Homo sapiens: one gene and its partners. The protein of the gene in region 2 interacts with the protein of the main gene of each other region in a pairwise test. Each region holds a gene or a part of one and is shown on either strand. Other genes may lie near its edges. The genes, in order: SMIM11, ASPH, GOLM1 and PTH.

The links.
Region 1: the proteins of ASPH (region 2) and SMIM11 interact in binary tests that used the Homo sapiens proteins (3 or more experiments, as listed by UniProt).
Region 3: the proteins of ASPH (region 2) and GOLM1 interact in binary tests that used the Homo sapiens proteins (3 or more experiments, as listed by UniProt).
Region 4: the proteins of ASPH (region 2) and PTH interact in binary tests that used the Homo sapiens proteins (3 or more experiments, as listed by UniProt).

What each region holds. Positions count from the first base shown.
Region 1 is NC_000021.9:34,384,839-34,390,772, reverse strand, and holds the end of SMIM11 (small integral membrane protein 11), read right to left. Parts: intron 5,296-5,934; coding exon 5,131-5,295; 3' UTR 5,129-5,130; intron 2,145-5,128; 3' UTR 1,622-2,144; downstream 1-1,621.
Region 2 is NC_000008.11:61,704,570-61,713,358, reverse strand, and holds part of ASPH (aspartyl/asparaginyl beta-hydroxylase), read left to right. Parts: intron 1-8,789.
Region 3 is NC_000009.12:86,025,526-86,034,314, reverse strand, and holds the end of GOLM1 (Golgi membrane protein 1), read left to right. Parts: intron 1-919; coding exon 920-1,033; intron 1,034-6,421; coding exon 6,422-6,498; 3' UTR 6,499-8,169; downstream 8,170-8,789.
Region 4 is NC_000011.10:13,492,987-13,502,320, forward strand, and holds the start of PTH (parathyroid hormone isoform 1 preproprotein), read right to left. Parts: upstream 3,012-9,334; 5' UTR 2,925-3,011; intron 1-2,924. UniProt on the Homo sapiens protein: Parathyroid hormone elevates calcium level by dissolving the salts in bone and preventing their renal excretion. Acts by binding to its receptor, PTH1R, activating G protein-coupled receptor signaling.

The DNA of each region.
Region 1 (5,934 bases), on a different chromosome or scaffold from region 2:
CAATAAGCTATGATTGTACCATTGCACTCCAACCTGAGGGACACAGCACGTCCTCATCTCTAAAAAAACAAAAGCAAAAACAAAAAACAGAAAAGCCACGGGCACTGTTGGGATGATCAGTGGTTTAGTCCAGTCCTTATGTCACCTTCTACCTAATTTTCCAAGATGGCCAGATCTTCCACAAATTCCAAAGTGTAGCTTTAAATCCCAAAGCCTAGAAAAGCGCTTGTGTTTAGCACATGAGTGTCTACTGGTCAGCAGATCCCCCGCCTTGGACTTATGAGGCACACAGGCGGGTGGGCATGAGGGAGGAAGTGGTGCCAAGGTAGCAGGTCTGATGCCAGGCAAGGCAGGAGCAGGTGATACCCTACACCTGCAGGGTGGGCAGCAGAGAGGCCAGGCCCCTGGGGCAGGAACATGGGCCAGGGTGGGTGGGGTAACCTGCCAGGGTGCAAGGAGGCCCTGACAAAGGGAGGATGGTAGGCCACGGCCCAGGGTCAGTTCTAGGCCCCATCTGAGCATGTCACGAAAGCGTGGGGATGGCAGAAATCCAAGGGCATCCCACCTCTGCTGTGGTCTTCCATTCACGTTCTAACAGGACCCCAGGCCGCAGCAGGATTAGGCAGAATAAAGTCACCAGGGCTCCTGGCAAAGGCTGGAGCGGCCTCCTTCAGAGAGAATGAGGTCTGGGCTTACGTGAAAGTCCACTTTGACTATGGTGAGCACTGCAGCTTGTAGGAGCAGGGTCTGTCTGTCCTCAGAACTTTGTAAATTCTTTCCTGCTTCCTAAATTGTCCTGAAGAGCATCCAGCAAGCACAGTGCAATTTAAGATGGAACTCCCCTGACTCCCCACATGGAAAACGCATGTTCGACACAAACTGGGCCAGGACGGGGAGACGTTTACTAACACACACTCCTGCAAGTTTCCCATGCAGCCATCAGCAACCAGACCAAACACTCCGCACTGCTTCCAGTGCCAGCTGCTGCCACCTCACTCCCCATCCACTCTGGGGTCTTGCGAAGAAGTGGGAGAGCATGAGCTCTTGTCACAGGGATCTGCGTGTGTTAGGTGCTGAGTAAAACATCTTCCCATCCTCCCTGCCCTTGGTTCCAGTGGCTCCTAGGGTGCCCTACCCTTCATTTCTCATCAGCAAATCCCAAGGAGCAAACAGGTGAGGAGAGGACAAAACACACCCTAGGGCTCCCAACGATTCCTCCCTGCGAGGACCCTCATGGTTAACACAGGAGTCACCTTTCCTGGACACACACAGCCTCCCTCCACCCTAACAATGAAAACACTCCAAAACACTCTCACAGGGGTGTAGCACCTGTAGGAGGAAAAGACGAGAAAGGAGGGTATGGGAGGGCAGCCTATGAGGGGGCCTGGGGTCGGGGGTAGCTGGCCGAAGCACCCAGTGCTGGGGACCCCACTCCCACAGCAGATGTTTCTGCACCACCTTGTCCTCTATGGAAGCCTCTCACCTGGGACCCCCCAGCTTGAGATGGTGGGGGAGGTGTAAGTTTACAAAACCCCCCGCTTTACAACACGGGGTAGAGGGTGCTGTGTAAGAGAAAGAGAAAGAGATACACAATTTGACTTATTCCAAAGGCCACGACTCCTTTTTTTACAAAGGCATTTTATTTTAGTAAACAAAATACTGGTTATTATTATTTTTTTTAATTTTAATTTTACCTTTTTTTTTTTGGAGACGCAGTCGCTCTGTCACCCAGGCTGGAGGGCAGTGGCACGACCTAGGCTCACTGCAACCTCCACCTCCCGGATTCAAGCAATTCTCCTGCCTCAGCCTCCCGAGTAGCTGGGATTACAGACGCGCGCCACTACACCTGGCTAATTTTTATATTTTTAGTAGAGACAGGATTTTACCATGTTGGCCAGGCTGGTCTCAAACTCCCGATCTCAGGCGATCCACTCGCCTCGGCCTCCCAAAGTGCTGGGATTTCAGGTAAAAGCCAGCATACCCGGCCAGTACTGGTTCTTTTAAAAACATATACAAATTCACACTATTTTAAGTGAAAGGTCTAGGTTGGGAGTTTATCCTCTGACAAATTATTCAATAATTAAGTCTTTCTTCTCTTTCTTCTCAGCTGGAGTCCACTCAAGCTGACATTTACATGGCAGAATCTAGAAGGGAATACCAAAGGGATGAGTAGGAAATGTTTGATAAGAGTATACCCGATGTTTACTGCTCAGCATAAAGACGTATGCTCAGCCATTTAAACTTAACAAGCGGACACCACTCAAGTCTATCACTCAAGTCTATTTATTAACCAATGTATTTTTAGCATCAGTTTCCCTTCCATCTGAAACACCCCACCCCCCTTTTATTTATTTATTTATTTTTTGAAACAGTCTCACTCTGTCACCCAGCCTGGAGTGCAGTGGCACAATCTCAGCTCACTGCAACCTCTGTTTCCCAGGTTCAAGTGATTCTCGTGCCTCGGCCTCCCAAGTAACTGGGATTACTGGCACGTGCCACCACGCCCAGCTAAGTTTTGTATTTTTAGTAGAGATGGGGTTTCGCCATGTTGGCCAGGCTGGCCTTGAACTCCTGACCTCAAGTGATCCACCCGCCTCGGCCTCCCAAAGTGCTGGGATTACAGGCGTGAGCCACCGCGCCCGGCCTGAAAACGCTTTTTGTTTGAAGCAAGTCTCTAGTCTTTAAGAAGCTGCCAGCCTAGAGAGGAAGACCAACTCCCTGAGTTGCTTCTAAGCCATCCAGGCCTGACTTAAATGCAGGTCTCTGCTGATGTTTGTGGGAGGAACAAAGCCTTTATGATCTTCCATCTCATCTTTTCTTCCTTTGATCAGTTTAGCACACAAAATGGGATTGTCAGGAATATAAATTCAATCAGCAACATTTTAATTTAAACTGCCTTCCCTCACCCTTTTTAATTTCTCTCCTCCCCATCGTAATGCCTACTCCTAAATTTCAGTCAATCAAACACCTTAAAAAAAAAAAAAAAAAGAAAGAAAGAAAGAAAGAAAGAAAGTAACTTCTTCTATCTAGCAAAAGCCTACAGTTCACTGGGGACCAGCGAGTGGGCAGCTGCCGGAAGTGGTGAGTAACAGAGTGAAGCATCCCTACGAGCTCACTTGCCTGTATTCAGGAAGGTAGCACAGCTTGGGCTTGGCCATGCTGATCGAATGCATTTGACCTGGGATCAATTTCTGACTCTGTTCTTCACCATGTAGAGAGAGCCATTCTTTCAATCTGAACATGCCTCACAGAGTCATCAGGGCTGAATAACACAGTTGTGCATGAATGCTTAGCAAAGTCCCCAGCACAGAATAACCACTTAGTAGGTGTTGCTACTATTCCTCATCAGTAGGTCTTTAGCCTCAACAAGCCTGACGGCACTGCAAGGGAATTCAGCATGGAATCTCAGAGTGGGCTGGGTTTGGGAGGCCACCTAGCCCAGTGGTTCCTACAATGACCTGTTGCTGAGAAGACAACCTAAGGATTATCTAATGGGTTTTCAAAAGAACAGAGGCTGGGCACAGTGGCTCACACCTGTAACCTCAGCACTTCAGGAGGCTGAGGCGAAAGTATCGCTTGAGCCCAGGAGTACAAGACCAGCCTGGGCAACACAGCAAGACCCCTTCTCTACTAAAAATTGTTTTAAAAACCTAGCCGGGTGTGGTGGCGTGCTCCTGTAGTCCTACCTACTCGGGAGGCTGAGTTGGGAGGACTGCTTGAGCCCAGGAGGCTGAGGCTGCAGTGAGCCGAGATTGTGCCACTGCACCGCTCTAGCCTAGATGACAGAGTAGGATCCCCTATCTTAAAAACAACAACAAAAACCAACACCCAAACCTAACCAGAGCCATTATGGAATCTCTCTGGGCTGAAGCTGGGAATCTTCATTTAAACAAACACCTGGGCAATTCTGATCATTAGCTAGGTTTGGGAACCACAGATCTAGAACCCCACCGCCACCATATTTGAATCCTTTTTTTTTTTTAGACAGGGTCTCGCTCTGTCACTCAGGCTGGAGTGCAGTGGTGTGATCATGCCTCACTGCAGCCTTGAACTTCTGGGCCTCAAGCAATCCTCCACCTCAGTCTCCTGAGTAGTTGGGACTACACACCCAGTAAGTGTGCAGCTAAGTTTTTTTTTGGTTTTTTTTTTTGGTTTTTTTTGTTTTTTTTTTTTAATTTTTGTAGAGACAGGGTTTCACTATGTTGCCCAGGCTGGTCTTGAACTCATTGGCTCAAGTGATCCTCCCACCTTTGCCTCCCAAAGCACTGGGATTACAGGCATGAGTCACCACACCTGGCTGAATCCCCTGATTTTTAAAGTACAGAACTCAACCTGCAAAGTGAAGAAACTGCATCAACACACTGGAATCAAGGTAACTGTGAATTGTCATGTGTTAAATCTGTAACAGGGGCTTAACAGGAACTTTCTGGTGCCTTGATGTATTGTAACTCCCCAAGTGTGTTCTAAGCCCACCAGTGTGCACTGTGATAGGCACTGGGTGACAACGATGAGTGTACCCTCAGGCCTGGTGAGGAGGTCCTTGGGAAGAACCTAATAAGCAAGGCCAAAGGCCATGGTGGCTGAGGAATGGCCTGCAGGGGGATGGGGAGTGGGCACATGTGGCAAATGAGGTCTGGGTTAAGACCAGACTGGGAAGGGATTTATTTGTCATACCATGGAGTCAGACTTTATCTTAAAGGTAACAGGGTTTCTTAATCTTGGAATTTCAAATGACCTGTGACTCCCCACATCTGCAAACTTCTCCCCACACACAAATGCAGATGGTTTCAGTATGTGTGCTTCTCTGGGAAGAAGGTCCACAGCTGTCACTGAGTCCTCAATTCTTAACCCAATACCTGTCAAGAACCATTGCCACCGCAGGTTTCAAGAAGGATGAACTAATGCTCCGTGCACCTTGGCTCAGCAGCACTCACATCCCAGGACCAGGATCTGCACACCTGGCCCTTTATGGAGCAGTTCTACCTTAGAGAACAGGTGAGGCCACATGCCCCCACGCAGCCCTTCAGACCCGACGGACAGGGAGGTCTCAGACCTCTCTTGTTCATTGATTGGTCACCCCAACCCACTGGCCAGCTCCCATTTGCAAGGTTGGGTACTGTGGACTCACCTTCAGTTATCTTTTTTCTCTGATTGCTTCTTCCTTTCAGCCTCCAGTTTTTGTTGTTTTGCCTCCAACCTTTTTCTTTGATACATTTTCACCCCAGCAAATGTCAGGCAGAGAATTAATGTTTTTGCTGCCAAGATATACAGCAGCAGGGGCACGTGCTCAAGAACCTTCAAGAAGAAAGAAGCCATGCTAACTAAATGTTCCATCACCGATATGGGAGGTTTCTTTTATGATCCTTCAGTCAACAAATATTTACTTAGCACCTATTCTGCAACAGGCACGAGGATAGGGGGCTGGAGCTACACTGGAGACCAAGCAGAAAAGGTCTCTATCCCCATGGGGCCAACAGTCAAGTTACAGCTCTGCTCTTTGCTGCTTGCTTGCGGCTGGCTTCATGGAGGGGACCACCGGTCATCCACAGGCGTGGGGACTCTGGTCTCTCACAGCTCAACCGTGCAACCTGCTGATCACCCAGGCCCTTGCTTCTGAGGCAGCAGCCAGATCCAGTGAAAGGAGCTGGAGCCCGGAGGCCTGGGTCAGAGCTCTACTTTACCACCGACTGACCGTGTGACCTGGGTCAGGCAATGAGCTCCTTTCTTTCTGAGCTCCTGCCCCTTCATCTACAAAGTAAGGGTGAATCAGACCTTGCTTCTGGAAACTGCAGCTTTAGTACTCTGGGATTTTCTCTTGTTTCTAGAGACTCACTAGCACTGGCACTTGCTGGTAAAATAAAACACGACAGAACTCAAAACATTAAAACATGGCTACTTACTAACTGCTCTTGCAACCCCATTCACTAAAATAAA
Region 2 (8,789 bases):
TTTATAGCACTTGTCACTATCTGAACTTGTCTTATTACTTTCATGTGTGTTGTCTTTGGCTCATTCTCTCTGTATCCCCAGCTCCTAGAATGTTCCTTTCCCATAATAGGTGCTCAATAAATATTTGAGTAGTGAATGAATGAATGGATTTAAATGGGGAAAGTAGTGCATTAAATCCATTGCACAAATTTACATTCTAAGGACTAATATTTGTATTCTAAAAGTAAAGATGTAGACACAGTTTGAAGTTCAATGCAAGCATATTAATTCACCTTTGACATAAGTGAAAGTTTGTGTTCCTTTTTCACTTGTTCTTAAATGTCACTTACTTAAACCTGCAGAGGGATAGATTAATTGCCTCAGCCGACTGAGGCTACTCTTTTTTAACATCCCTAAATGAGAATGGGTTCTTCTCATTGTGCCTCTAAGGGCACTAAGCAGAGAAAGCTGATGAACAACTTTAATGTTAGTTGTTTTCAAAAGGTTTCTGTAGCTATTTGCCAGAGAAGCATGTCTTCGTTCCATTTCATTTTTGTGTTTATGAGGAGAGGGCTGATTGCATCTGAGGGAAGTCACTTTATATGGCCTCTTATTGGTGAGAACTAATACTGGGAAATGTGTCTCACGTTTCTAGACCTACCCCATAACTATTTGAAGCATTTTAACAGGCAAGAGATAGGTTTAGAAAATGCAGTAACTTAAATTAACTTCTCCTGACTTTCATAGTCAGGCATTTTAGAACAAACTCTGCCCATATTTGAGGATCTACAGCCTTTTAAGCATTTTACACGTTGATTCTCTAATAGTCATGAAACAGACATAGTATGTAAAAGAATATGTAAAAGGGAGGAATGCCCGTGATACGAAAACAAAAGTTGATATTGGAACCCTGCATGTGACGTAATGAGTATTCTTTATCCGCATATCCGCAACCTTTTCTTTTTTTTCTCCAGTAGATACTGAGTTCTTACTGTGTGCCAGATAGAAGGCACTGGGTATGGAAACCATTTCCTTCCATCACCCTAAACAGTTAAAGTACAGTGTCGTGTATAGTAGGCTGTACTCGAAAGATAAAGCCGGCTTTTCTTTTAATGCTGTTTACCTGGTCATTAAAGTACGGACGTTGTGCGAACCATTTCCTTCTACTGGGAAAATCAAAGACTTTTTAGCAGTGTCATACTGTGAGACCCATTTAGTTTCCTGCTCAAATCATACAGATGAGGAAATTAATGCCCAGAGAAGTTGCCGAGTTCATTGAAGGTTGTTTAGTTCATGGAAACTCAACTAATTACTGGAAGAACCGAGACTAAGAACCCAGGTTTTGTTATTCATTTTGCCATGCTTGAATTTTAGGTTCTCTAGTATGTAATTGGAGTTGAACTAGATTATCAAGTTTTCTTCTGGCTGTCTCCATGAGTACTACATTTAATTATTGGAGAAAACTATGCTTTTGTCCTATCACCAATTACATTTCCCTTGACAAAAATTCTATTTGAAACACTATTTGAAATTTTAGTTTGAGAAGAAGTATATGTGTTCAAATAGTACGTTTTTTGATATGTCTTACATTGAGAGTCAGAAAATGACGGCATTGGTCACATTAAACATTATTATTTCTTAAGTTGTTGTGTAAACGTATGGGGAAAAAAGAACCCAGTCATTTGAAACATGCATTTTAGGGAAAAGGTGATTTCTTTTTTTTTTCCTGGCCAAACTTTATCTTGGTGGTTTTTTTGCTGAAAAGTGATGTTTGGAAGCTGGAATTTGGGGAATTTATATCACAGATTTTTAAAGCAAGTGTCTGCTTTTTATTTTCTTCAGCTTAAGCTGAAAAATGATAAAATGGTTTTCTACAGAGTTCAATTTTACTTTTTTTTCAGTTTTACTCTTTATAATATAAAAGAAACATGAATAAATTAGACTTCCTACCTTTATTTTGCATATAGAACTGGACTTGCATGGCCAGTTGGGCCCAGGGGAAGCCTTTTTCAAATTTATTGATTTGAAAATAGTTTGACAAAGAAGGATCATGATGTCCTTTTGGGCTTATTTTGTAGACACTCGTATGTGTAATGTTTTCTGTTTGTTTGTTTAGTTTTTCCCTTTTGAGTATCACCCCTTAACTCCCTGTATCTCCTAGCAGCTTTCCATCTCCCTGTTTATTTTGTCTGGGTGTCCTGCTACTACATTAACTTTTGCCACTAGGTGTCACTGTAGAATATATCCCCCTTTTAGTTTGAAGCTTGGGGTTATGTAACAGCAGGTTTTAATTATTATTTAATCCGTCTGTATATACTCAAAACTATTGATAGATAAGCACTTAAAAACTCTTAGCTACTTTTTAACTCTCTCAAGGTGTCTCAGTAGATTGAGCAGCCTTTTTGTTTAGGCTTAATTAGAATGAAATATATTCCTGTACTGCCTGTAAAACATTAACAGCTTCATTTGATGAGTATTTGTCATTTAGAAACACACTTCTGAGTTTAGTTTAGCTTCCTTTTTCTTTCTACTTTGAGTGTCTCTTAGATTACTAAGTAACTGAGGGATTCAATACACTGCTGATTGCATTGTGGAGCCCTTGAATGAAGAGGCCCTAGCAAAATTTTCTTTCTTTAGCCAAAGACCATCAGAGCCAATTGCTTAATCCTCCATTACTCATTCTAAGATGAAAACATAGGAGGACCATAATTCTTCCACTGCAAGAACCGTCAGCTATTTTGTGTTCAGTTCAACAGCATTTTGTCCATCCTGACCAAATCATATGAAACCAAGCACTAAATAATGTTCTGAGGGAGTTTATGAACACATTTTCCAGAGACCAGTTAACCTCTGGTGGTCTGTGGAAGTGAAAGTTCTATATTTTGGACTATATTTTAGTCTTGCTTTAAAATAATCTGTCTCATAGAGATTATTAGAAAATGAATGTATGACATTTTCATTTTCAGCCAGTTATCAACAGAGGAACTTGGATAAAGGCTCATAGGGTCTATCCATCTTGTTGTTAGTTAATATCAGATACTTAGCCCCTGAGCTCTCTGGTTCCAATAGAAAAACCCTTTTCTCCAGAAAGCTAGTGCAGTTTGGGAGAAGGAATATGATGACCTGGATCATATCTGTGTAAGAATCAGAACCAAGAATCGCTAAAAATCTCTGTTCCCAGCCTCCTTAAATGTAAAGAATTATTATCTACTTTCTTTTCAGAGTTTTGATATCACTAATGCTGATTTCATATGGCTTTGTGTTTCTCAGTTGTTTCCGTTAAAGTACGTCTAATAGTAGGGGTGAGTGCAAAACTTTGGAGACTATAAAAGTGTAGATGTCATCAGGCCATTGCATGCTTTGACTTTTTTGATGATTTATTCTTATTTATTTATTTATTTTCATGTTCCATAGCATCTTTGTGTTAAGTAAAATGTATATTCTTGAGATAGAGTTTATACTATGCTTTGAGGACTGCTCGATACATTTCTCTCAGCTTCTGGAGGTGTAAGTATCCATTTGCACATCAACTTTCAAGTTGGTGATTTGCCCTTAATGGCTCAGAAATCTGTAACATTATTTTATCTTACCCAGGCTCAGATATATTTAGTCTTTTGAGGTAACTCCAGCCACTGTTTTAATATCATGAAAATATGCAGCTTAGTTTGTGGCTTGGATACTTCCATATCACCTCTAAATGGCTTGACTTCATTCTGTACCAAGGTACAAAAATGTTTTTCAAATGAACTTCTCTTTAATAAACCCTGTATGTACATATAACCTATGTACACCCCACCTAAACCTCCGGGGAAAAGCCTCAGCCATCTATCGGGAAATGTGGAGGTGCAAGGGCTGCTTGCTTCATTATCTGCTGCCAGTGTCTGCTCTGCACTGCACATGTGGGTGTGATGAGTTTCTCTGGTTCGGTCCTGCAGCTCTGGCCATTTTTATTAGAGGACTAAGGATTCAGGATGTTCTTTTCTTCCCTGTGTACCACTGTGGGAGTATAGTCTGGAGGCCAGTGCTTTAACTTTTTTTTAATTATACTTTCTTCTGGTACTGCTGGGAGCCAAGATGGTATTTTCTTGTTAGTCATTATTTTTAAAATTTTAGTATTTTATTCCCCTGATGTGAGGGATGCTTCAGGCTTTTGTCCTGCATTTGATCTTTGTTTTTCAGGGATGTGTCTTGGTTACCTTTGGCTGATGTGGTTATCTTTTAACGGCAAATCACTGAATGTAATTCAGTTCCTATCAAATTGGCCACAGCTGAGGACAAATTTGGTTTAGATAACCTATTAGACTCAAAGGAAATGTTGAGCTCCCTTGGTGAATAACTCTTTTTAAAAAGAAAATCATCTTTTGAAGGATCTGGGCTATTCGGCCCCCTGTGAGATTCAGGTCACTTGCCTAGTCATGTGACTGTCATCATCTGCCGTAGATACTATGTGTGCTCCAGAGCGGAGAGCATTGGTGAATTGACTTGGTTGAGGGGTGGGGGGCTGGGGGGTGGGAGTGGTTGCTGTCCAGTTATAGTCAGGTTTCCAAGGGCAGCCACTATCTCTGTACTTGGAGAAATGCCAGCACTTCTCTCCTACATGTGTGCCCACACGTTGAACCCAGTGACTCATCCTGTACTTAAGACCCCAAGGATCAGTCTTAAATTTAAAGTAGGAGAATATCCTTTGATAATTTTATTTCACAACCAGCATTGTTGTAACTGCCTTTTCTCATATTTTACATAGGTTTGACAGCCATTTCTACCATTCCATAGTGCAGAGTCACTATTATTTTGTTGTTCTATCCTGTCTGTAACTTCTTTTTCTTATTTATTATTCTTCTAATATACAGTTTTTGTCCCTATCTTTCACAGGCTGCTTTCAATTTCAATTTTCTTGGTATACTGGAAAGACTCTTTTGGTCTTAGTTTCACTTGTAAATTTTATTTAGGACACTTAATTTTTTGACTTACATAAACCTCAAAATCTGTGTTGTAAATATTTGTTGAAAGAATATCTAGCATTTAACTACTTTTCCATTCTTTGAATCAAGTCAATTTGTATAAGATGCTTGTCACTGAGTTTTTGTAAGTTGTTTCATGGATTTGCTTTTTGGCAGAGAGCTAGTTCTCTAACCTTTATAATAAAAATATTTCTGTGTATTGCTCTTTAAAATTGTATGTATTTGAAATAGTACATATTTAAGCCTATAAATAATTGTAGAGAGTAATGCAGTGGATGCCCATGTACTGACCATATAGGCGAAGAAATGAAACATTATCAGATTCCTAGATTTTCCTCTCCTGTGGTATTCCTTCCTAACCATTGTTAAACATTTTATGGTAGTCATTATCATAAATACAGGTATATATGCACAAAATAATATATAACATGTAGCACATACACATTATGTATCCACACATGTAAACTGTATCTATTATTAAATCAATGTATTTGAAAACTGCCCAGGAAGTATATCTATATCCCTATGTGTAGAAATATACCTATACACACACACACATATATGTATATATACTGTATAGCACGTATTAAAAGTTTTGTGAACAGGCTTCTACTTGGCATACTATTTTGACAGCATTTGTTTGAAATTCCTCCAAACTCCAGTTCTTTATTTTCACATATGTAGTTCTACACCATATGAATATGCCTTGCTTTTCATTTAGCCATCCTATCGCAGGCCACTTTTTTTCTTTCAAATAATGCTGCCCTGTACATGTATGTGCCTATCTCTCCCCATGCATACATGTCTGAGTGTTTTTCTAGGGCATAATCTGGAATTGGAATTGTGGGTCATAGAAAGTACACACATTAGACTTTACTGGATATTGCCATTTTTTAACCCCCAAGTGGTTGTATCAACTTACAGTTCTGCCCCTAATGAATAAGAGCTTGTTCTGTGCCATCATCACATTGTCAACATTTGGTGAAGTTTAATATTTGCCAGTTGAGTGGCTGTGAAGTAGTACTTGAGGGTTTAAACTTGCATTTTTCTAATTACTAGTGAAGTTACTGGTAAGAGTAGCCTTGTGTTTCCTCCTTTGAATTGCCTGTTCGTATATCTTGCCTATTCTTCTGTTTTTGTTTTGTATTTGTAGTATTGATAGGTAGATTTTTTTTTTTTAATATCCTGAACCTTTTGATTATTTTTGATAAAGGACTTCTCCTAGTCTGTGTTTACTCACATTTTCATTTTTTATGGTATACGTTGTTGAACAGAATTTTAAGATTTTAATATATTAATAGAATTTTTCCATTTTGTACTTTGTGGTTCACACCTTTATACTTTTTGTAAGACACATAACACAGATGTTATGAATTATTCTTGTATTTTCCTCTAAAAGATCTGAAACGTTGCTTTTTTACATTTAGATCTCTGAACCACCTGGTGTAGCATTTTATTGTATATTTTGTTATTAGGGATCTAATTCAGTATTGTTTTTTAAAAAGGGCCAATGAGAATGTCCTGTACTGTTAGTTGATTTGTCATCTTTTTACCGTAGTCTGCAGCATCACCTCTTGTGTATGAATACGTCGGGCTCTATTTTGTTCCAGGCATGTAGAAGCAACACCAAACTGAATTGCTCACTATAGCTTTGTAATGAGTCCACATATCTGATAGGGCATGTCCTTCTACCCTGCCTTTTTCACTATTGTGTTTGCTGCTTTGGGACCTTTCCTCATCCATTTCTCTAGATTTTAGAATCTGCTTATCAAATATGTTCATGAAAAATATTTGAGAATTTTTACTGGCATTGTATTGAATCTATAGAACAATTTGGGACAAATACAGATGTTTATAATACTGAATCTTCTTATACATGCACCTGGCCGGCTGGCCTGCTTTCTCTTCTTTCTTCTTTCTTTTTTCTTCTTTCTTCTTTCTTCTTCTTCTTCCTCTTCCTCCTTCTTCTTCTTCTTCTTCTTCTTCTTCTTTTTTTTTTTTTTTTTTTTTTTTTGAGTCATGACCTCGCTCTTTCACCCAGGCTGCAGTGCTGTGGCAGCCTTGACTTCCCAGGCTCCGGTGATCCTCCGACCTCAGCCTCCCTGGTAGCTGGGACTACAGGCATGCACCACCATGCCTGGCTAATTTTCTTATTTCTTGTACAGATGGGGTTTTGCCGTGTTGGCCTGTCTGCTCTCAAACTCCTGGGCTCAAGTGGTCTGCTCATCTCGACTTCCCAAAGTGCTGGGATTACAGGTGTGAGCCCTGCACCTGGCCTATAATTTCTTATGTATTTAAGTCTGACAATTTTTATAATCTTATTTGAAAGTCATATACATCTTTTATTAGATTAAGTCTGGGTACTTTGTATTTTAAAAAACATTTTCAATAGTATTTTTAAATTAACATTTTTTAATGAAACTTAAAAAATATGTATCCAAATTGAAAGAGTTCTGTAATGACTCCACCATGTAGATGCTACAGCGGTTAACATTTTGATAGATTTGCTTTGTCATGTCTATTAGTCAATCTTATTCTTTCATGCCTTTCGAAGTAAGTTGCAGGTATTAGTATATTTCACTTTCATAAACATTTACATGTGCCTGTAGCTAACTAGAGCTTAGCATTTGTTTTTTTTTCCCTCTGAGGTAAAATTTTCACGTAGTGAATTGCACAAATTTTAGTGTCTGATCTGAGGAGTTTTTATATCCATTTCTACCTTTGTAAAACAATAACCTATTAGGATAGAGAATATTTTCATCACCCTGTAAAGTTCTCTCAAGCCCCTTTCTTGCGTCCACCTCTGCCACCAGAGGCAGCCATTGTACTACATTTTTTGATCATAGATTAGTGTTTTCTATTCTAGAACTTCTTTTGCAAGTACTTTTTTTTGTAAAGTCTCCTTTCACTCAGCATAATATTTTTTAGTTCGTTTATGTTGTGTACACGGTCACTTGTTCCTTTTTATTGTCAAATAGTATTCCAGTGTCTGACTATAGCACAATTTTTTTTAAGCTTTTATTTTAGGTTCAGGGGTACATATACAGGTTTGTTATATGGGTAAATTGCATGTCACAGGGGTTTGGTGTACAGATAATTTTGTCACACAGGTAATAAGCTTAATACCTGCTGAGTAGCTTTTTTGATCTGCACCTTCCTCCCACCCTCCACCCTCAAGTAGGCCCCAGTGTCTGTTGTTCCCTTCTTTGTGTCCGTAGGTAGTCAATGTTTTGCTCCCACTTATAAATATTAATAAGAACATGGTTCTCTGTTCCTGTGTCAGTTTGCTTAGGATAGTGGCCTCCAGCTCCATTCGTGTTGTATAGCACAGTTTTTTAACCCCATCTTTTATTGGTGGACACTTGGGCTAGTTTTGGGTTATTATGAATAAAATTCTATGAATATTATAGAAGCCTTTTTTGACATATGTTTTTATTTCTCTTGAGCAAGAGAGGGATTACTGGGCTATAGGGTAGGTGTATGTTTAGTTTTATTAAGAAACTGTTCAACTCTTTTGCAGAGTAGTTGTACAATATATTTTATACTCCCACTAACCATGTGTGGAATTGGTTGTTCTACATATGTACCAACATTTGGTGGTGTCAGTCTTTTTAATTTTAGCCATTCTGGTGGGTATGCCGTGGCTTCTTACTGTAGTTTACATTTGCAATTCCCTGATGAATAATGATGTCAAGCACTTTTTCTTGTGCTTATTGGCTACACCCATTATCTTTAGTGAAGTTTCTTTTTTGCCCATTTCTAATTTTATTGTTTTTTGTTGCTGAGCGGTAATTCTTTATGTATTCTGGATAGAAGTTCTTTTCAGATATATATAGCACATATTTCTCC
Region 3 (8,789 bases), on a different chromosome or scaffold from region 2:
AAGAGACTAGAGCTGCTTTTCCAGGTGTGCACTTTTAAAAAAGATTTTGTTTGGCCGGGCGCAGTGGCTCATGCCTGTAATCCCAGCACTTTGAGAGGCCGAGGTGGGCGGATCATGAGGTCAGGAGTTCAAGACCATCCTGGCCAATATGGTGAAACCCCATCTCTTCTAAAAATACAAAAATTAGCTGGGCATGGCAGCACGTGCCTGTAATCCCAGCCACTCGGGAGGCTGAGGCAGGAGAATCGCTTGAACCCCGGAGGCGGAGGTTGCAGTGAGCCGAGATTACGCCACCGCACTCCAGCCTGGGCGACAGAGTGAGACTCCATCTCAAAAAAAAAAAAAAAAAGATTTTGTTTACCAGCCTGCATACACATATAAAATATGTAAGTTAAACCCTTTGAGTAGGTCTCTTGAAAGCCTTTTGTCCTCATCTTCTCTGGCTGCTGCCCACTCCAGGGAAGAATAGAGTAATGGGTGCTCTCATGCTCTAAGTATGAGGGACACCTTCTCACGTGTCTCACAGTGGCAGCTCCATTTCCTCTCTCCATTCTAAGGAGATGCTGTCATTAGCTGTAGATATCCGTTCCTTCCTAAAACAGTGGCACCTTTCTTTTATCTTGAGTTGATTATCTCTTTAAAAAATTGAGATTTGGGTTGTTAGTTTCTCCATGTTCTGCCTAGAATGCACCCTTGTATTTAGGGCCATGCTGTCTGTAGATTCCGAGTCCAAGTGGAGTACACATAATGCATGTGCTTGTCCTGGAAGCCAGCCCTTGCGTCCCTACCATTTCCAGAGAGGCAGCAGACAGATCTGATTGTGAGCAAGTATGGCTAACCCCCAGCACTTGTGCTCTGATAGTCCTGTGACATCAAGACAGAAATGATGTAGCTTATGTTTTATGTGCTAATTTTACAGGGAGAAACCAGCAGAAACTGAGAGGAGAAGATGACTACAACATGGATGAAAATGAAGCAGAATCTGAGACAGACAAGCAAGCAGCCCTGGCAGGGAATGACAGAAACATAGATGGTAAGAATGGGGCCTACATCGGTGACGAGGTCACCTTTCATTTCTCTTTCCTGGTCCTTCACCGTGATTATCCAATGAATCCCCAAAATTATATTGTAATTAATGGGTCATTTCAAGGAGATCGTCTGTTCTTTAGGAGCTTTTAAACCAGGGGCAGTGGAGGGAAGTGAGGGTTGAGAAGCCCAAGGTGATGAAAACCATTCGGAAAGTCTGCATCGTTTCTAGAAACATATTCAGTGTGGCTCAACTCTTTAAGTAGGATGATTTTTCAGTGACATTTAGGGATTTCCCAACAAAATGGCTAGGTCACTACTTGATCAGTCTGCCTCCCAGATGAGAAGCCCCAGTATGTGCATAGAGCTTCCAAGCAGCTATGAAAGCTGCCCTTTGTATTATTATTTTGAATTTTTGAAGAGTCCAGGCCAGTATCTTGTAGAATGTATCAAACTCTGGCCTTGTCTGTTTGCTTGTGGTGGATTCAGGCTGATGAATTCTTGCTTCTCCCCAGGAGGCATAACAGCAGGTGGTCCTACAGGTGATTGGTTGATCCCTTAGCTAACATGGTGCCCACAAGGTCTCAGAAGGCCATTTTCCTTTTGATATTAATACGTCATCTAGAAGAGGATGCTTTGAACTTGTGTAGCTTTACCATCCATTGATGAACATTGCCCAAGTGGTGACATTTTACATGCTGCCATCACAGCACATTTATTACCTGACATTTTTTAAGGAACTCCTCTCCCTCCTCCAACACACTTGTTTGTTTTGGTATCACTATGGACTCATAGTATTCTTTCTTAAAATTCATTTTTCTGGGCCAAGTGTGGTGGCTCACACCTGTAATCCCAGCGCTTTGGGAGACCAAGGCAGGCAGATCAGCGGGTCAAGAGATTGAGACCATCCTGGCTAACACGGTGAAACCCCGTCTCTACTAAAAAGAGAAAAAATTAGCCAGGCGTGGTGGTGGGCGCCTGTAGTCCCAGCTACTCGGGAGGCTGAGGCAAGAGAATCGCTTGAACCCGGGAGGCAGAGGTTGCAGTGAGCTGAGATCGCACCGCTGCACTCCAGCCTGGGCAACAAGAGTGAAAATCCATCTCAACAACAACAACAAAAGAATCCAAGCCATGTGACTGTAGTTTCCCACAGCCTGAATACTGCTGATTATAGAGTCATGGGGGAGTTGAGTGAGTTCGCCTGGTCTCTGTTTTCTGTAGAGTGGCAGCTATACCCAGAGACTTGATGAGACTCAGGTCCTGGCTCAAGCCCTCGGTAAGGTGAGTGGTGGTGTGTTCTTTGGTTCTTTCATCGGGAGGCACGTCATGTCTGGCGTCTTTTTTTTTTTTTTTTTTTTTTTTTGAGATGGAGTCTCGCTCTGTCACCCTTGCTGAAGTGCAGTGGCGCGATCTTGGCTGACTGCAACCTGGCGTCTTTCTTTTTGTGATGCCAGTTGATGGTCAATGCCTGTATCAATTCATTTTTATGTTATTTGTTAATTGGAATGTTCTTAGAAATAGACACTTCAGCTGGGCGTGGTGGCTAACACCTGTAACCCAGCACTTTGGGAGGCCGAGGATGGTGGATCACCTGAGGTCAGGAGTTTGAGACCAGCCTAACTAACATGGTGAAACCCCGTCTCTACTAAATACAAGAAAATTAGCCAGGCGTGGTGGCACATGCCTGTAATCCCAGCTACTTGGGAGGCTGAGACAGGAGAATCGCGTGAACTCGGGAGGCAGAGGTTGCAGTGAGCCGAGATTGTGACATTGCACTCCAGCCTGGGCAAGAAGAGTGAAACTCCGTCTCGGGGAAAAAAAAAAAAAAAAAAAAAAAAACCTCAGTGGTATTGTTTGTATAAGGTAGATAGGATAAATGCTTGATTTCTTTCCTTTTTAACAGTTTTCATGACTATGAATTACTTCCCCATCTTCTCTGAGGGTAACTGCTTTTAAAATATCATCATAAACTTCAGAATTCAGCAGAAATCCTCAGGGCAGCAGGAGTCGTTGTAACAACTACTTCACTTCAGTTTCGGCCTTGCTGATCCTGCCGATGCCCTTTTTTTTTTTCTTCCTCAGATGGAGTCTCACTCTGTTGCCCAGGCTGGAGTGCAGTAGTGCGATCTCGGCTCACTGCAACCTCTGCCTCCCGGGTTCAAGCGATTCTCCTGCTTCAGCCTCCCGAGCAGCTGAGATTAGAGGCGCACGCCACCACGTCCAGCTAATATTTGTATTTTTATTAGAGACGGGGTTTCACCATATTGGCCAGGATGGTCTCCATCTCCTGACCTCATGATCCGCCTGCCTTGGCCTCCCAAAGTGCTGGGTGGCGTAAGCCACCACGTCTGGCTAACAATACCTTCTTTTATTACCATCTGGGCAATGCATTATTCATTTAATGTTTTAATACTTACATTTTTTTTACCTTTTCATTTTGAAATAATCTAGACTTCTTTAAAAAGCAAAAAATTTCTGTATACCCTTCACCCAGGTTCCCCAAATGTTAACATCTTATATAACCACAGTAAAATTACCAAAATAAGGAAATTAATGTTTATACAATGCTATTATCTAATCTGTAGACTTTGTTGAAATTTAGTGAGTGTCCAATTCATGTCTTTTTTTCTGGGTTCAGGATTATACACTGCATTTATTGTCAGACCTCTTTAGTGTTCTTTATCGTGGAGCAGTTTATCATTTATGTTGTTGGTCTTTTTTGAAGGGTAGTGGCTCAGTTATTTGGTTGAAAGTCCCTCAATCTGTGCTTGTCTGATTTTTCAACAATGTCCCCCTAAAAATTATCTTTTATATTTCTCCAGGATGTCAGTTGTTTCAATTGGCAGAGTTGTTTGGAATTTTTAGAATCCAAGTCCTAATTTGAATTTTCAGCTGTCTTCATTTAGGCAATTTTTTAAAAAGGCAAATGGCAAAATACACTAGCAGCCAGACTTTGAAGCAAATACAAACTCTCTGTTGTCATTGACTCCACTCATTTATGTTCTTGAGCATGTTTCACGGTCTGGTCACTGTCTTACTTCTATTCTTTTTTTTTTTTTTTTTTTTTTTTGAGACAGAGTCTCACTCTTCTTGCCCAGGCTGGAGTGCAATGGCACAATCCTGGCTCACAGCAGTCTCCGCCTCCTGGGTTTAAGTGATTCTCCTGCCTCAGCCTCCTGAGTAGCTGGGAGCTGGGATTACAGGCTCATGCCACCATGCCCAGCTAATTTTGTATTTTCAGTACAGACAGAGTTTCACCATGTCCACTAGGCTGGTCTCGAAATCCTGACCTCAGGTGATCTGCCTGCCTCAGCCTCCCAAAGTGTTGGGATTACAGGTGTGAGCCACCACCCCGGCTCTAACCACCTTTTAAATTGGGCCTAGTTTCCTACTAAATGATGGGCTTTGCGGTGAAGCCTTTTTGGATCTCTCATTCCCTACACTCAGGTGTCCTAAGGACTTGACCTTGTGCAAGGTTTTAAACAAAGTAAGTAGGTAAGGTAAAGAAAATGAGTGCCTTGTCAGCTCTTTGAAGAAGCTGAAGAAATGTCAACATCAGCTTCAACATTATTTTAAGATTGTGTCATTGAAACAGTGAGACCTTACTTGCTCCAGGGAAATTAGAAGAAAAAAGCATTAGCTCCAACTTTATTAAGAGCCTTTAACAGATACCGTTAATTTAATATGGCAGGTATTTAATGGTCATTAAACTACCATTTAATGTGCCATAGTTATAAATCAAGACCGTGGTTTTAGGTTTTATTTGTGATGTGCCTTTTTATGTTTTCTGTGTGTTAAAAGGATAGAGTAAGATCAGATGGTAGAAGCTACATACAGACATCAGCTCTGTAAAGGGAGAGCTTTGGAGTCACAAGAGCTGTCTGAAGCTGCAGACAGCTCTCAGGAGGCAGCGTGTGCCATTAGAAGTGCAGTAGCAAGGGAGTCACGCCGCACAGGAGCGTGGTGATTATATTTAAAATGTCATGAGTGCACTTGATACTGTCCATTTTCTATGGCATATGGGGCATTATGTCACTGTTACAAACAAGTATGGAATCTTTAGGTGCTTCAGCTTTGTTTCATGGCACATTGTTGGTCATCCATTTGGACACTTTGAAAGGGGAGGAGTTCCAGCTGGGCGTGGTTGCTCACGCTTGTAATCCCAGCACTTTGGGAGGCCAAGGCGGGCGGATCACGAGGTCAGGAGATCGAGATCATCCTGGCTAACAGGGTGAAAACCCGCCTCTACTAAAACTACAACAACAAAAAGAAATCAGCCGGGCGTGGTGGCGGGCGCCTGTAGTCCCAGCTACTCGGGAAGCTTAGGCGGGAGAATGGCGTGAACCCCGGAGGTGGAGCTTGCAGTGAGCTGAGATCGCACGACTGCACTCCAGCCTGGGTGATAGAGCCAGACTCCGTCTCAAAAAAAAAAAAAAAAAAAAAAAAGTTCCCTTATCCCCTTCACAGGGCATGCAATGGGGGTATGGCTTTCTTCTTCAGTGCCCCACAGCTCAAACCCCTAGGGGAAGCATGCGGACGGACAGGTTGTGGGGAGGATGGGTTTCAACCCCGCGGCAGCATCTAGGGTTGAGTGGTTACAGCTCCTGGAGCCCCACTGGGTGTGTGTTGCAGTGCGTTCTTTCAGCTTAGCTGTCCACAGGCAGCTTGTGTTAATCAGTTCAATTAGACCCTCTGCCTTATCGCAAGGACAGAGGGCTTTCTGTATCCCAGGTTCTTGCCCTAGTGTACTGAAAAAATCAGATCATGTGGGCTTGGAGAATGAATGCAAGATTTATTGAGTGGTGGAAGTAGCTCTCAGCAGATGGCTGGGGAGCCAGAAGGGGGATAGCATGGGAAGGTAGTCTTCCTCTGGAGTCTGGCTGCTCAGCAGCCGGGATCTCCTACTGTCCTTGGCCGAATTTCCCTTGGCGTCCGAATCGTTCCACCATCAATGGCCTGCCAGCGTCTTTCGATGTGTTCTTCTGCCAGTGTGTTCCTCTTGACGTCCAGCCGCTTGTGTGTGTGCCCGCTGGGGTCTCAGGGTTTTTATAGGCACAGAATGGGTGGCATGGCAGGCCAGAGTGGTCTTGGAAAATGCAACATTTGGGCAAGAAGACAGGAGTCCTTGTTCTCATTAGGTCCATGGGCACAAGCCTGAGGGTGGAGCCCTTGCCAGTGACCCTGCCCTTCTCTACCCAGCACTTCCCTGTCCCCCTCCCATATCACCGTTGCCATCTTGTCCTTGATGAGGAATACAACTCCCAATTACAGTGTTGCTGTGGGAGATGCAGTCCTCTTTATGACAGTTTCTAGAAGTTGATAAGAAAATGGGACCTGCCTAGGGCTAGTATCTCATTTAATACTCTATAGAATATTATGTGTTTTTCCTTTTTAGTTTTTAATGTTGAAGATCAGAAAAGAGACACCATAAATTTACTTGATCAGCGTGAAAAGCGGAATCATACACTCTGAATTGAACTGGAATCACATATTTCACAACAGGGCCGAAGAGATGACTATAAAATGTTCATGAGGGACTGAATACTGAAAACTGTGAAATGTACTAAATAAAATGTACATCTGAAGATGATTATTGTGAAATTTTAGTATGCACTTTGTGTAGGAAAAAATGGAATGGTCTTTTAAACAGCTTTTGGGGGGTACTTTGGAAGTGTCTAATAAGGTGTCACAATTTTTGGTAGTAGGTATTTCGTGAGAAGTTCAACACCAAAACTGGAACATAGTTCTCCTTCAAGTGTTGGCGACAGCGGGGCTTCCTGATTCTGGAATATAACTTTGTGTAAATTAACAGCCACCTATAGAAGAGTCCATCTGCTGTGAAGGAGAGACAGAGAACTCTGGGTTCCGTCGTCCTGTCCACGTGCTGTACCAAGTGCTGGTGCCAGCCTGTTACCTGTTCTCACTGAAAAGTCTGGCTAATGCTCTTGTGTAGTCACTTCTGATTCTGACAATCAATCAATCAATGGCCTAGAGCACTGACTGTTAACACAAACGTCACTAGCAAAGTAGCAACAGCTTTAAGTCTAAATACAAAGCTGTTCTGTGTGAGAATTTTTTAAAAGGCTACTTGTATAATAACCCTTGTCATTTTTAATGTACAAAACGCTATTAAGTGGCTTAGAATTTGAACATTTGTGGTCTTTATTTACTTTGCTTCGTGTGTGGGCAAAGCAACATCTTCCCTAAATATATATTACCAAGAAAAGCAAGAAGCAGATTAGGTTTTTGACAAAACAAACAGGCCAAAAGGGGGCTGACCTGGAGCAGAGCATGGTGAGAGGCAAGGCATGAGAGGGCAAGTTTGTTGTGGACAGATCTGTGCCTACTTTATTACTGGAGTAAAAGAAAACAAAGTTCATTGATGTCGAAGGATATATACAGTGTTAGAAATTAGGACTGTTTAGAAAAACAGGAATACAATGGTTGTTTTTATCATAGTGTACACATTTAGCTTGTGGTAAATGACTCACAAAACTGATTTTAAAATCAAGTTAATGTGAATTTTGAAAATTACTACTTAATCCTAATTCACAATAACAATGGCATTAAGGTTTGACTTGAGTTGGTTCTTAGTATTATTTATGGTAAATAGGCTCTTACCACTTGCAAATAACTGGCCACATCATTAATGACTGACTTCCCAGTAAGGCTCTCTAAGGGGTAAGTAGGAGGATCCACAGGATTTGAGATGCTAAGGCCCCAGAGATCGTTTGATCCAACCCTCTTATTTTCAGAGGGGAAAATGGGGCCTAGAAGTTACAGAGCATCTAGCTGGTGCGCTGGCACCCCTGGCCTCACACAGACTCCCGAGTAGCTGGGACTACAGGCACACAGTCACTGAAGCAGGCCCTGTTTGCAATTCACGTTGCCACCTCCAACTTAAACATTCTTCATATGTGATGTCCTTAGTCACTAAGGTTAAACTTTCCCACCCAGAAAAGGCAACTTAGATAAAATCTTAGAGTACTTTCATACTCTTCTAAGTCCTCTTCCAGCCTCACTTTGAGTCCTCCTTGGGGTTGATAGGAATTTTCTCTTGCTTTCTCAATAAAGTCTCTATTCATCTCATGTTTAATTTGTACGCATAGAATTGCTGAGAAATAAAATGTTCTGTTCAACTTATAAAACTTGTCACAGCTCTGTTTTTTTGCTTTTCCCCTTCATCCTCTATTAGATCCTTAAAGAATCCACCCTCAAACTGTGGACTAAGGATGGCAGTTTGCCTTAAACCTTCTGTGGAATGAGATGGGCTGTCAGGACGTCTTCAACCCACAGTACCCCGAAAGCTTTGTGCTCACCACGTGTGCACTCTGCATGCTTTCTCCAGGCTGCCCTAGGGATCACGACAGATTCAGCCAACAATGGAGAGGGCTGTGGGCTGTTCCAACAAAATAGAACAGTCACCTCTGGTGACACGCATCTGTAGTCCTAGCCTCCCAAGTAGCTGGGACTACAGATGCATGTCACCATGCCCGGCTAATTTTTTGTATTTTTAGTAGAAATGGGGTTTCACTTTGTTAGCCAGGATGGTCTCAATCTCCTGATTTCGTGATCAGTGTAAAGACTCAGAGAGCTGTTGCATAATAACTTCATGTGAGTCTCCAAAATTTGATACTAAAGGCTTGGTGGTCTCAGGGGGCCAATGTGGCTGCAGCCTGAGGGGCCAAATGGAGAGGGCAGAAACGAAGTAGGAGAGGCAGAAGGGGTCAAACTGGCATTCTGGGTAAAGACTAGGTCATTCA
Region 4 (9,334 bases), on a different chromosome or scaffold from region 2:
TTTATGGATACATTAGTATACATTATATATACACATAATTTAACTTATAAATTAGTTTTATGCTCCTAACTATCTTTTGGAGATTTCTTGTGCAAGTTTTATTTATTTATTTATTTATTTATTTTTATTTATTTTTTTAGAATGCAATTTTTTATTGTTTTCTAAATCTATTTGTACACTTAATATGCTAGTATTAATTTCACAAACAGTATAAAGAATGTACTCCAATGATATTAAGCGGCAACTACTCACCTGAAAAAGAAAACATTGTCTCTGAAATAATTCCTAATTATACAATTTTGCAAACTAATAAGCACTATAAATATTAAAATGTTAAGACTTCAATGTATAATGTCAATAACATCCTGCCTTTTTAAAATTGCTTAAAACATTTGTTAAAGATCATGCAAAATAAACACTGTATTAAAATGCTAGATTACACTCAAACATCAAGGCAATGAAACACAAAAGAGCAACTATTTAGCACAATGACTGGCCAAGTAAATAACTTAATCAGCATATTAATAAAAATCCACTGAGTGATAAACATCAAAAATGTAACACTGAATCTAGATAATCACGCATCTGCGATCTCACCATCTACCGTCCTAACTGTGACTTGGGGTAAACTGCCAGAATTCATTCTGCATAAATGAGCTATGTTAAAATGTTAGCAACATTTCATTGCATGATGACAGAGTACATTTCTAGTCCACACAGTACTTCAACGTGATCATTCTCTTAACTCAGCTAATAACTAATGGAAAGTACAGTTTTACAGTCATACCACTTATGTATATACATATATTTTACCCTTGCTTTGTTACATGTTTTTAAATTTTTTTTAAAAAAGTATTTCCTTTCTTATGATCCTCCCCCAGAATTAACATGCTGACTTAGGAAAAGACGAAGTAGATAAAGTCTATCCTAGTATAGAGAGCAATGGTTTACTTTTACCTAATTAAATATTTCCTTGTCATTTATCAATTGTCACTGACCTTTTTTATGTAATTATTTCCTCATTCACTCATCTATAAATATTTATTAGTGCCTGTTGTTACCCATGTCTCCTTGATTTTCCAGAAAAATAATTCATGTTTTTTTTTTCTTCTCATTGCTAAGCTCACTTAGAAAAATTAGGCACCATTTAAAAGACTTGGAGAACAGACCAGCGTGGCTTCTTGGGCACAGCTGGATGGTGCTGGAAGCCAGGCCTGGGATTTGGAGAGAAGAGTCTCCAACAGATAAACCCACGGAGGTCACCAGCCCTCCCTGCATCTACTCTCCTAACAGCTCAGGATGGCCCTGTTACACTACTGCCAGCCCTGGTGACTCGCTTTCTTAGCAATTTTTAAAGCCCTCTTCATTATGTACTTCCTACTTAAAATTCAGAACCTCTGTGATAAGCAATGCCTCTGTCATACAGAATGCTGGATCTCAGTTTACTGAGCCTCTCCCTGTAGTGTCACAGGCTGTGCACTCACCTAGATGAGCCCCTAAGAGCAGGGTTTGCTTCTGCTTCATCTAATGCCACATCTTCCCTCAAATGTGTGGTCACCAAATGTTCTGCAAAAAGGGTCTCTAGCTTTTTACTTTTCTTTTTGGCAAATTAAGCCCTTTAAAATACTTCTGACCTATCTTTATACTCAGATCTCACCTCATCTCAAGTTTTATGGGGTAATGCGCCAGTGAAAGGTACAGTGGTATTAGTGAGTTCTGAAGCTTCTAATTACATAGACAATAGAGGCTGGCTGGTGAGCCATGCTTCTCATGCTCCCTTCTGTCACACTGCAGAAATCTTAAGCTACAAGAGGAATGAAAGAGCCTATTTTTGAGAAATCCCCCCGCACTGCATTTTATGTTGATTATACCTAAATGTTTATAACTTGCTTGAAAATGCCTAATTTTCTTCATAGTGTAAATTGTTAACACTATTTACGTAGCAAATCCTTTTCTTAAGTAACCTTCATTTCAGGCATTGTAATAACCATAAATACCAAACTAATAGGTGCTAATCTAGAGATTTTCACTAAATTAATTCACATTTCTCCTAGCATTAAAAATAATGTGTCAAAGCATTTAAAAATCATCTGATTAATTACTTGTGATATGGATTTCGAGCTTTATCTCTGAATGGAATGCTTGTTTGTAGCTTATTTCTTCAACTTATTTTATTAACAATTATCTTTTAATATAACTTTTGTCTCTTTCCTCGTTTCACATCAGTATAGGATATTCTTGCCTTAATCTGCATTTCAGTACTTGCAAAGGCTGTTATTATAGAAGTGCTTTTCCTTAATGCTCAGTGTACTACCTTTTAACATACACATAGAGTAGTTATGTACTCCTATTTTACAGGGAAACTGCATCATTTAGAAATAGCATAGGAAATACTGTTTTCAGAATACAGCTGTCATTTATGTAAAGGAAATAAATATTTACTAGTCAAACTGGGCTTATCCAACTTTAGTATACAGATTGGGCTCTTTATGAGCCATAAAATAAATAATCTAGATAAGAATACTCTGCAGGAAAAACAGAATATTAACTCCACTTAATAAATTTATAAAGATTATTTAAATCAGAACTATTCATTCACCATCAACCTGTTTTATTTCAAAATTTTGACACCGATACTATTATATTAAAGCATAGCATGCCAAATTTTAATGATTTTTTGTTGTAATTTCAGATGAGGTTTTAAAAGGCAAGGTATCTCAGAAGACTTTAATCAAAAAGGATTTTGTGATTTGAGTAGCATTAATTTATTTTGTATGTGGCATTTTATATTAAACATAACTCAAACTTCTTAGCATTTTACCTTGAAGAAACAACATGGTATTTGTAGAAATGGTACACATTAAATAATAACTTGATTATCAAAATCTCATGAGATTCAGAAGTGAATTTTTAAGTTTACTTACCATACAATGTCTTAGAACAAGATCTTCGTTCAGGTATGTTAGTAGCTGATGCTGAGTAAACTAAAGACAACTGATGAATTGGACTGCAGACCCCTTAAATGGTGACTTTTATATATAGGTCTTCTGCTTACCAAGAGAGGCTCTTTTATTGTTACAGATGATGTCACTCCCAATTCTCTGGATCTCAACTATAGGTTCAAAGCAGCACATACACACACCCATTGGGCGGTGCACACTCTTCTTAAGTTTCAGATAATTGGATACTAAAAGGAAAACAGCATTTGGCTTGACAAGGGGCTTATGCAAAGACTTTTAACAAATACAGAATTATACCATCGAGAAAAATTCTATGTGGATTAATGAATCTGAATTTATACTGTAAAAAGACTGATTTCAAAGGTTTATGATAAAGTCATTATCTTACTTGAAAATAAAACCCAAAAATAAGTGTATTTGTTATAACCGTACTGTTGGTACAGTTTTTATGGTAATAAATCATAAATGTTAGGCTTACTTTACAAGCCATTTTCAACCAATCCATGTCACTTCTGGTCATCTTTCAAAAAACAGATATAGCCCTTTTCTTAAAGGAAGTGTTAAGAATAATTTGAGAAAATGCTCTTAGTACATAATTACTTTAAAAGCTTCAAAAGTGAAATTATTTTAAAATTTATTTAACTTATATTTTATTTGTGCATCTTAATCTATAATAATAACATTTGATAAGCACTAACTGCATGCCTAACTACATATATTATCCCACTAGATCTTCACAGCAGTCCTTTAAAGTTAGTACTTAAAGTACTAAAGTTAAGTGCTTATCCCCATTTTTACATGAGGAAACTTAGGCTTGGAAAGCAGAAAAGATGGAATTCAACAAAGGTCTTTATGACACCAGATTCTTACTACCTCAGTTTCTGCCTAGAAATACAGCCCTTCTTTGAACTCCAGTCTTCTTGACTTTAATTTGCAAAGTCATCTGAAAACACAGCAAAAGCTCTTTGCAACATTTTCCCCTAGGGGTTAGGTCTTTATTCTCATGTTCCCTAAGGGATGATGAGAGCCTGCTCCAAAACCTATTGGAGGCATGATGCTGCCACATGTCTGACTTCAAATATTCCTCCAGCAATATTTTCCTGGTCCACCTGTCAAAACACCCTGAATGTCTTTGATATATCTAGGACTCCTTTAGACAGCTTTGCCTTCCCACCAAAGATCCGGTGCCAGAGTGGGATCAGTTCTCTCAGCTCTGGTCCCATCCTGGCTTCATGTCATCCTTTTTCCTACTAGCCATTGTCAAGGTTTGACTCTACCTTAGGTAAGAGCCAGTACAAATTTGAATAGTAACCGTATGGAGTTTATAATGAGAGATATATACTAGTCCTGTCCTAGGAGATTCTCCACTCTGGGTTAACCTCACTTAGAGTGTTGCTCCAGGCTCCATTTTAGAAGCAGTAGAAACAAATGGGAACATACACTGAGGATATCAATCAGTTTGGTGAAAATGTTGAAAACTATAACATGAGAAGTAGTTGAATGAAACTAGAAAAGTCTGAGGAAAAAAAGACGGGATGACTTTATAGCTGTGTTTAATTATTTATAGGGTTACCATAAGGAAGAAGGAGTATTCTCTGTGGTTTAAGAAGGAAGGGCTGGGTTCATTGGGTTTAACTTGGACATTATAATTGTCAAAATAAGGAATCAAGTACCTTCTCAAATAGTGATTTCTCCATCACTGAGAATATTCAAGTAGAAGGTAGATGAGCATTTATCAGGCATACTATAGAGATTCATACATAGAAGAAAGTTGAACTAGATAACCAAGAGGTCTCTTTTAACTGTAAAAATCTGTTGTCTTGATCTTTTTAAAGACCTCTTCTGATGCAAACTCTACATGTGATGTTTGTGTGTCATTTTTCTGCTATACTCTGTTGAGAAGAAGAATTGGAAATACAGATGGTTTTTCTTTTTTCTTTGAGATAGGATCTCACTCTGTCACTCAGACTGGAGTGGTGCAGTGGTATGGACATGGCAGCCTCAACTTTCGGGGCTCAAGCAGTCCTTCCACCTCAGCCTTCTGAGTAGTGGGGGCTATAGGCACACAGCACCACAACCAGCTAATTTTTAAATTTTTGTGGAGGCAGAGTGTAGCTAAATTGCCCAGGCTGTCCTTGGCTCAAGCAGTCCTCCCACCTCTCGCTCCCAAAGTGCTGGGATTACAGGCATGAGCCACCACACCCAGCCACTAATGGATTTTTATTTTTTAACTTTTAAGTTCAGGGGTACATGTACAGGCCTGTTATATAGGTAAACTCATGTCGTGGAGGTTTATTGTACTAATTATATCATGACCCAGGTATTAAGCCTAGTGCCCATTAGTTATTTTTCCTGATCCTCCGCCTCCTTCCACTCTCCATCCTTCAGTAAGCCCCAGTGTGTGTGGTTCCCTTCTTTGTGTCCATGTGTTCTCATCTTTTAGCTCCCAATTATAAGTGAGACCATGAGATATTTGGTTTTCTGTTCCTATGTTAGTTTGCTAAGGATAGTGGCCTCTAGCTCCATCTTGTTCTTTTTTATGGCTGCCTAGTATTCCATGGTATGTAGGCACCACGTATTCTTTATCCAGTCTACCACTGTTGGGCATTTAGGTTGATTGCATGTCTTTGCTATTGTGAATAGTGCTATAATGAACATACGCATGCATATGTCTTTATTATAGAATGATTTATATTCCTTTGAGTATATACCCAGTAATGGGATTGCTGGATCAAATTGTAGTTTTGCTTTTAGTCTTTGAGGGATCGCCACACTGTTTTCCACAATTGTTGAACTAATTTACACTCCCACTAACAGTGTATAAATGTTCCTTTTTCTCCACAACCTCACCCATACCTGTTATTTTTTGGCTTTTTGATAACAGCCATTCTGACTGGTGTGAGATGGTGGCTCGTTATGGTTTTGATTTGCATTTCTCTGATGATCAGTGATGTTGAGCTTTTTTCCATACGCTTGTTGGCCACATGTATGTCTTATTTTGAAAAATGTCTGTTCATGTCCTTTACCCACTTTTTAATGGGGTTGTTTGTTTCTTGTAAATTTGTTTAATTTATAGATGTTGGATATTAGGCCTTTGTCAGATGCATAGTTTGCAAAAATTTTCTCCCATTCTGTAGGTTGTCTCTTTACTCTGTTGATAGTTTCTTTTGCTGTGCAGAAGCTCTTTAGTTTAATTATATCTCATTTGTTAATTTTTGCTTTCATTGCCATTGCTTTTGGCATCTTCTTCATGAAATCTTTGCTCATTCCTATGTCTATAACAGTATTGCCAATGTTGTCTTCCAGGGTTTTTATAGTTTCGGATCTTTAATCCATCTTGAGTTAATTTTTGTATATAGTGTAAGGAACAGGTCCAGTTTCAATCTTCTGCATACACAAATGGTTTTATAAACACATTTTTTGCATTGTTATTATAAAGCCATGCTTAATATTCTGATTTGGAGATTTTTCCCGCTTTGGGTAAGTTTAATGTAATTGACAGCCTTCTAGGAGTGATGCAATTATCACTTTCTTGTTCTTCTTTCTCTTACACTTATTTATAGAATAAATTGTCATACCAAGGCAACCACATTATTAAACTAGTTTTACAGAAAAATAAAGCAAATAGTTCAGACAGTGGTCACTCATTTGTTCACTCAAAAAAATGCGTTGAATACTATCTGCCAGGGGCTGTATTAATCACTGGATAATTGAGACATAATCAATGCCTTGAAATTTAACACATAATTATAATATAATGTGATAGGTATTATAATAGGGGTATGAACAAAGACTTATAAAAGCACAGAAGAGGAAGTGACAATTTCCCTAAAGTTGTTGGAAGCTGTTTTACTGAAAAGCTGAACTGTCCTGACAGGTGATTGTGTTTTCCATCAGAGAAGGTAAGAAAGGACAGAGGGAACTGCATGCGCACAGGCATGCAGGCAATGAAGACTGAATAGACGCAGTGGCTCACACTTGTAATCTCAGCACTTTGGGAGGCCAAGGCAAGGGGATTGCTTGAGTTTAGGAGTTTGAGACCAGCCTGGGCAACATAGCAAGACCTCATCTCTCCTAAAAGTTAAAAAAAAAATCAGCAGGATGTGGTGGTGCACACCTGTAGTCTCAGATACTCAGGAGGCTGAGATGGGAGGATCACCCAAACCTGGAAGATGGAGGCTGCAGTGAACTCTGATCATGCCACTGTACTCCAGCCTGGGCGACAGAGTGAGACCCTGTCTCAAAAAAAAAAAAAAAAAAAGACTGAATATTGAGTATATGCTTGTGGATGGAGAGGGAAAATGGGGAAATGGATGATGACTCCAAAGAAGTAAGATTTGGGTACAATTTTGGAAGATTATTGTGTGAATGCCAAGGAGTTTTGTCTTGCAGTCCTCTCTAAACTCTAAATGTGTGCATGAGTAATATTGTTGTGTCCTTCAAATTTTTCAAAGGACTACTTGACCTTCCCACAAAGCAGTAATATAGCTGCCAAGACTTGATATATAGTTTATCTGAACCATCACGTTCTGGACCTGCAGGTATTAGATAGAAGGAAATCACTTAGGAGGACAGGGTTAGGGGATATGTGGGCACAAGAGACTGATGACACCGTGACAGAGAAGAGCTGAGCACAGCTTTTTGCTTTGAAAACGTCAGCTTTTCTTAGCATTCTAAAGTACTGAAGCTAGGGTCAAACAATCTAATGTATTCCTCACATTTGGGAAGGACAAAATACCATGTGTTGTGCCCTGTTCCCTTATGGAAGGTTTAAGTTAAGACGGATACTTTTTCCTTCTGTTTGCTCAATAGGAATTAGTACAGCTTTGGGAATTTGACATCAACAAGCTTCCAGGGCTGAAAAATCCAGCTACATCTCTCTAATTCCATGTTTTGTGAACAGATTGGATAATTTCTACTCCCTTTTTTTAAAAAAAAAAAACAAATTTACTGAGGTTCAATTGATATACAAAGAACTGTTCATATTTAATGTGTACAATGTGATGAGTTTGGACATACATGTTATCCCTGTGATACCATCACCACAATTAAGGTAATAGACATAGCCAGCACTTCTCAAAGTTTCCTTGTCGTTTAGAAGAACACAACATGAGACCTACCTTCTTAAATTTTGAAGTTCACAATGCAGTATTATTAGGTATAAACACTATATTGTATAGCAGATCTCTAGAACTTATTCTGAATAGTGTCTATCTTAATGGTTGAGTCATTCTTTTGCTCCAAGCCCCTCTGTGCAATGAGTTACTGAGCTCCTTATTATTATTATTATTAATTTTTTTGAGACAAGGTCTCAATCTGTCACCCAGGCTGGAGTGCAGTGGTGTGATCTCAGCTCACTGCAACCTCTGCCTCCAAGGCTCAAGGGATCCTCCTACCTCAGCAGCCTGAGTAGCTGGGTCCACAGGAGCATGCCACCATGCCAAGCTAATTTTTGTATTTTTGGAAGAGACGGAGTTTCACCACATTGCCCAGGCTGGTCTCTGCCTCCTGGGGTCAAGTGATCCACTCGCCTCGGCCTCCCAAAGTGCTGAGATTACAGGCGTGAGCCACTGTACTCAGCCAACCAAGCTCCTTTTGATCTGTCAGAAAAAACTTTCCTCTCTGCTTCCTTTCACCAGCCCTAAACTTGTTTATAGTTAGAGGCAATGAACAAAATGCTTAAAGTGACTTAGCACATAATAAATGATTAATATTCCAAGTATTTATGATAGTATTCTGTTCCTTATTTTTCTTTCTCTAGAATTTTTATTGATGGACGCTGTGATTGTGGTTCTCTAATAGGCAGCATTTAGAAGGCCACTGATCTCTATATATTCATGTTATAAACTCTGGGATCCATTATATCTGAGTAGCTCCTCGAAGTTAAAATGTGTAGCCACATTCACAAATACAATATTACTTGTTGTTTTTTGTGTGTTCTGTCAGTGAACATCTAACCCTGCATGAGTTTTCAGCTTTCTACATGTTTATATGGATTGGGGGAGTGTTAAGATGATATGCAATGTTTCCACGATCAGAAAGAGGCATCTCTAGAGGCAGGGACTGAAGGAAATAGCGAGTTACTGGATGCCTGGGATGAGACTGTCTTTCTAAATACAGTAAGGAATGTCTCTGTCTTGTCACAGAGCAAACCTAGAGAGTCACTTATGGACTTATGGAAACCTTTAGATCTTTATTTAATTGAAAAGGTTTTAGTTGCCTGTGCAAAGTTCTCTGTTTCTTAAAAAAAGAGAGGGAAAGAAGTAGACACAATTGAGTCATCACTTTTTGAATCATAAGAAAGCCATAGCAATTTAATTGAGAAGTAAAGTCTCAAATTTTCTGTGGCCCTTTCCAGTGAAGTAACCAGACCA